Regions from separate parts of the Homo sapiens genome. Here region 1 is linked to region 2. The links come from fine-mapping of genetic effects on gene expression. A gene starts in region 2. The other region holds a variant in brackets. All regions are shown on one strand. Distances are between the middles of the regions.

Region 1 (2,913 bases), 960 kb after region 2:
ATCTCCTTAAGCTGATAGGCAACTTCAGCAAAGTCTCAGGATACAAAATCAGTGTGCAAAGATCACAAGCATTCTTATACACAAATAACAGACAAACAGAGAGCCAAATCATGAGTGAACTCCCATTCACAATTGCTTCAAAAAGAATAAAATACCTAGGAATCCAACTTACAAGGGACGTGAAGGACCTCTTCAAGGAGAACTACAAACCACTGCTCAATGAAATAAAAGAGGATACAAACAAATGGAAGAACATTCCACGCTCATGGGCAGGAAGAATCAATATCATGAAAACGGCCATACTGCCCGAGGTAATTTATAGATTCAATGCCATCCCCATCAAGTTACCAATGACTTTCTTCACAGAATTGGAAAAAACTACTTTAAAGTTCATATGGAACCAAAAAAGAGCCCGCATTGCCAAGTCAATCCTAAGCCAAAAGAACAAAGCTGGAGGCATCATGCCAGCTGACTTCAAACTATACTACAAGGCTACAGTAACCAAAACAGCATGATACTGTTTTGGTACCAAAGCAGAGATATAGACCAATGGAACAGAACAGAGCCCTCAGAAATAACACCACACATCTACAACTATCTGATCTTTGACAAACCTGACAAAAACAAGAAATGGGGAAAGGATTCCCTATTTAACAAATGGTGCTGGGAAAACTGGCTAGCCATATGTAGAAAGCTGAAACTGGATCCCTTCCTTACACCTTATACAAAAATTAACTCAGGATGGATTAAAGACTTAAATGTAGTACCTAAAACCATAAAAACCCTAGAAGGAAACCTAGGCAATATCATTCAGGCCATAGGCATGGGCAAGGACTTCATGTCTAAAACACCAAAAGCAATGACAACAAAAGCCAAAATAGACAAAGAGGATCTAATTAAACTAAAGAGTTTCTGCACAGCCAAAGAAACTACCATCAGAGCGAACATGCAACCTACAGAATGGGAGAAAATTTTTGCAATCTACTCTTCTGACAAAGGGCTAATATACAGAATCTACAATGAATTCAAACAAATTTACAAGAAAAAAACAAACAACCCCATCAAAAAGTAGGCGAAGGGTGTGAACAGACACTTCTCAAAAGAAGACATTTATGCAGCCAAAAGACACATGAAAAGATGCTCATCATCACTGGTCATCAGAGAAATGCAAGTCAAAACCACAGTGAGATACCATCTCACACCAGTTAGAATGGCGATCATTGAAGTCAGGAAACAACAGGTCCTGGAGAGGATGTGGAGAAACAGGAATGCTTTTACACTGTTGGTGGGACTGTGAACTAGTTCAACCATTGTGGAAGTCAGTATGGTGATTCCTCAGGGATCTAGAACTAGAAATACCATTTGACGCAGCCATCCCATTACTGGGTATATACCCAAAGGATTATAAAACATGCTGCTTTAAAGACGCATGCACATGTATGTTTATTGTGGCACTATTCACAACAGCAAAGACTTGGAACCAACCCAAATGTCCAACAATGATAGACTGGATTAAGAAAATGTGGCACATATACACCATGGAATACTATGCAGCCATAAAAAATGAGTTCATGTACTTTGTAGGGACATGGATGAAGCTGGAAACCATCATTCTCAGCAAACTATCGCAAGGACAAAAACCAAACACCGCATGTTCTCACTCACAGGTGGGAATTGAACAGTGGGAACACATGGACACAGGAAGGGGAACATCACACACCAGGGCCTGTCGTC[G/A]GGTGGGGGAAGGGGGGAGGGATAGCATTAGGAGATATACCTAATGTTGGATGATGAGTTAATGGGTGCAGCAAGCAACATGGCACAGGTATACATATGTAACAAATCTGCACGTTGTGCACATGTACCCTAAAACTTAAAGTATAATTAAAATAAATAAATTAATTAACTAAAAAAAAAAAGATTTTGGTGGTCAATATGGTTTGGCTGTGTCTCCACCCAAATCTCATCTTGAACTGTAGTTCCCATAATCCCCATGTGTTGTGGGAGGGACCCAGTGGGAGGTAATTTAATCATAGGGGTGGTTACCCTCGTGCTGTTCTCATGATAGTGAGTTTTCACGAGATCTGATGGTTTTATAAGGGGCTTTTTCCCCTTTTGCTTTGGTACTTCTCTTGCCTGCCACCGTGTAAGACGTGTTTTTGCTTCTCCTGTGCCTTCCACCATGATTGTGAGGCCTCCCCAGCCATGTGGAACTGTGAGTCCATTAAAACTTTTCCTTTATAAATTACCCAGTCTCGGGTATGTCTTTATCAGCAGCGTAAGAACAGACTAATACAGTGGTTAAGAACATAAGCTTTAGAGTCAGACACACTTGGTATTTATTTATTTATTTTAGAGACAAGATCTTACTCTGTCACCCAGGCTGGAGTGCAGTGGTACAATCATGGCTCACAGTACCCCTGACCTCCTGGGCTCATGTGATCCTCCCATCTCAGCCAAGACTACAGGCACATGCCACTGCGCCTAAGTCTCACTATGTTGCCCAGGCTGGCCTCTGAACTTAAGCGATCCTCCTGCTTTGGCCCCCCAAAGTGCTTGGATTACAGATGTGAACCACTCCACCAGGCGCTACACCTATGTTTTGAACCCTATTCTACTGCTTATGAGGTATACAAAATGGGGAAAGCTTTTAAAAATTCCATTTTTATCAGTTTTATTATACGTAAAGTGAGAATAATAATATCTGTTGCATAGAATTGTTAATAGTGGTTGTTGAGAACCCCTACATCAGAGGGCTGTGATTAAATGAGATTATATGAAAGGAAGCACTTATCACGGTGCTCAGTCTAAAGGAAGTGTTAAATGGTGGTATTATTACTTTGATAAGAAATGTTGACTGTTGATGAATTTACTACTTCATGTCTTGAAATCATTGATGACATGATTGAACTTTTA
Region 2 (2,913 bases):
ATCCAAAAACCCTTAACTGAAGCAAAGACAGTGATTTGTAACATCTGAACTGTGTGAAAGGGGTGGGGGTGATTCAAACAAGTGTCATCACCTTGTCCAATGATGAAGGAGAACGTGTATCAGTTCTGCATTGTGAAATTCTCAGTATGAGAGCGTGTAGTGGCTAAGAAAAGCAGTGGGCGAATTAGGAAACAAAGAGAAAAGCCAGCGACATCACCAGTTCTGGCCTCCTTCCCACCGGAGGAAAGGGGAGAAGGCGGGTAGTCATCAATTCCAGGTCCAGCCTAAGTTCTGGGTCCCCGGCCCCAGCGAGAGCCTCGCCTCGCCTCGCGCGCCTGCGCGGAGCGGGCTGGCTTCCTGAACGGCCCTCGCCTCTTCACCACCAGGGCCGTCCACCAGAAGTTTCTAAACGGGTGAGAGGCGACAACGCAGTGCAGCTGGGTTAAAGGAAGGAGGCTGGTTTATCCTCCGCACTTACTTGGTACTCGATCTCCAGCGAGGCCTTCAGGGGCATGGGCTGGTAGAAGCACTCCTTCTGGCCGGCGGGAAGGGTAAAGGTGAAGTCGCTATCGAGGGAAGGTGTGAAGCCGGCCGCCCCAGGCAGCAGCACCGGAGGCAGAGCGGCCAGAAGGAGCACGGGGAAGGGCAGCCAGATCTTGTCGCCCATCCCTGCTGGGGCGATCCCGGGCTGAAAGAGGCGTCAGGTACTGTTGTCTCCGCTCCGCGTTTCCTCTCTGGACTCCTCGTGGTTGACAGGGAAATCTGGAGTCTGAAGAAACTCCAGGTGGCGGCCGCGGCGGCGGCGAACACTCCCTCCGAAAGAGAAGCGCAGTTCTCCAAAGGGTAGGGACTCTGGGCGGGGCTAGCAGTCCTATTCCGCAACCGCCTCAGTCTCGGCCCCCTCAGGCCAGGCGTGAGCGCCGCCCGCCTCTCCCCCTGACGGCCTCCGGTTCCCATGGCTTCCCCCACCAATGGGCATCATGGCGGTAATTGTGGGAAATGTAGTCCCGGGCGGGCTCCGCTAGTGGGCTCGGGCGCGCTCGCCGACCACGATCCCCGGCAAGCCCCGCGCCTTCGGCGGCGCCTCACGCAGTCTGCGCCGGGGCGGGGCAGTGACCGGGTAGGCGCGTCCCAACGGCTCCCGCGGCGGTTCGAATTCTGTGCTGCCGGGGTTCGCTGGTTCTCCGAGTTGTGTCCGAGGCTTCCACGCGCAGGGGCCCGGGAAAGGGTCAGAGGCTTCCTAACGCAGACTCGAGTGCGAAGCGCGCAGTCGCCGGGTGGGTCTCTCCCCAGCGACGATTTGGGTGGTGAGCGACTGCGCCTTGGCGTGGGGAAACCGGCTTACCTGGGGGAGTTCTGTTCCTTTCCCTCCCGGCACCTTGGATGCGCTGGGACTGGTCCTCGTGGTTGCTGAGCATGCTGCTCTGAACGGTTGTATTTTATTTGATGAAAAATAGGAGGCCGGGCGCAGTGGCTTACGCCTGTTACCTCAGCACTTTGGGATGTCGAGGCGGAAGGATTGCTTGAGCCCAGGAGTTCGAGGCCAGCCTTGGCAATATGGCGAGCCACTGTCTCTATAAAATTAAAAAAAAAAAAAAAAAGAGGAAACTGTCACTTCCGTCCCCCACCCCCGCCCCCGCTTCTTTCAGACGGATGTAAGATTAGCTGTGTCAAGCGATCTTGAGACAGGAGACTACTACATAAAGTTATGACTTCTTTCCAAAATGAGGAATCTTTTTCGACTACAGCCCATTGTATCACATACATAGGGTATAAAAGAACACTTGTCCTTCGTTTGATGGGTGTGCGTGTGCAAACCTACAAACACATTGTTAATTAGGGCCGAAAGATGATGTTGTTAAGGTCGGTGAGTAGGATGATGTGCTTTTCTAGGTATGCATAGTCAGTGAAGATAGCCTTTTTTGGGTAACTACTGTAAATTGAAGTTAAGGACATTCATTTGACAGTAAATGTCCCACTAGGAAAATGAAAACATTTTAGTATCAAATATATTCATTGCTACTGCAGAAGAGTTAGGGAGTTCTTTCTTTTTTTTTTGAGACCGAGTCTCACTCTGTCGCCCAGGCTGGAGTGCAGTGGCGCGATCTCGGCTCACTGCAACCTCCGCCTCCCAGGTTCAAGCAATTCTCTGCCTCAGCCTCCCGAGTAGCTGAGATTACAGGCGCTCGCCACCACCCCCGGCTAATTTTTTTGTATTTTTAGTAGATACGGGGTTTCACCATCTTGGCCAGGTTGGTCTTTAACTTTTGACCTCGTGATCCACCCGCCTTGACCTCCCAAAGTGCTGGGATTACCGGCGTGAGCCACCGCGCCCGGACTGGGAGTTATTTCTTGCATGGCAATACACAGATGTTGAACTAAAACCTGATTTAAGATGAAATATATAGTACCAAATGGTATTATAGAATTTGCCCAATTTTCTCTACCCTTTTCTCCTTCACCATCCTACAGAGAGCTAGAGATGTTGAATAGGTAAAGCAGGATGGGGACCTGATTTATTGACTTGTCTGCGAGAGTCTTGTCACTTAAGCAGAAGCAAATTTGTGGAAACAAAAAAGGGAAAGAGGATAGAACCAGTTTGTCTATTAAGATTACATAGTATCTCATTTAATTTCCTGCCACTTTCTTTCCATAAGGTGGGAGTTTTCTTTTTAATCTTCCTCCCTACATCTGAGAATTTTTGAGTGGGGAATAAATGTAACATACCATTCTAACTGGATGAGGGAAGGAAGGACAGTTTAGTATTCGTTAATTCATTCAAAATATTGAGCTTCTCTAAGTACATTGCGGTCCTGAACGTAATGCACAGGACTTTTAACCTTTTGGAACTTGGGATGGGATCAGAATGCTAAGAAGGGCGTTGAAGGAGATGCTACAGTGAAAAAGGTAAAT

Which allele goes with the higher level. Positions count from the first base shown, and alleles are read on the strand shown. Sizes are in standard deviations (SD) of each study's normalised expression.
In carriers of allele A in region 1, the expression in neutrophils of the gene that starts at base 1,149 in region 2 tends to be lower than with G alone (large effect, 1.4 SD a copy in BLUEPRINT).

What was found. PIP is the estimated chance that this variant, and not a neighbour inherited with it, causes the effect.
Region 1: its variant is fine-mapped to the expression of CCDC18 in neutrophils (BLUEPRINT, PIP 0.95).

The regions. Positions count from the first base shown.
Region 1 is chr1:94,138,363-94,141,275 of GRCh38, forward strand. No RefSeq gene overlaps it. Among named protein-coding and RNA genes, the nearest start is that of ABCA4, 19 kb to the left of the region's middle. The variant G/A (reference allele first, on the strand shown) is at 1,735.
Region 2 is chr1:93,179,576-93,182,488 of GRCh38, forward strand. It overlaps CCDC18 (coiled-coil domain containing 18), which reads left to right and starts at 1,149. Exons shown (of 29, transcript NM_001378204.1): 1 at 1,149-1,277. TMED5 (transmembrane p24 trafficking protein 5) reads right to left here and starts at 838. Exons shown (of 4, transcript NM_016040.5): 1 at 479-838. The coding sequence starts at 667. RefSeq lists enhancers at 219-368, 1,239-1,448 and a silencer at 899-1,178.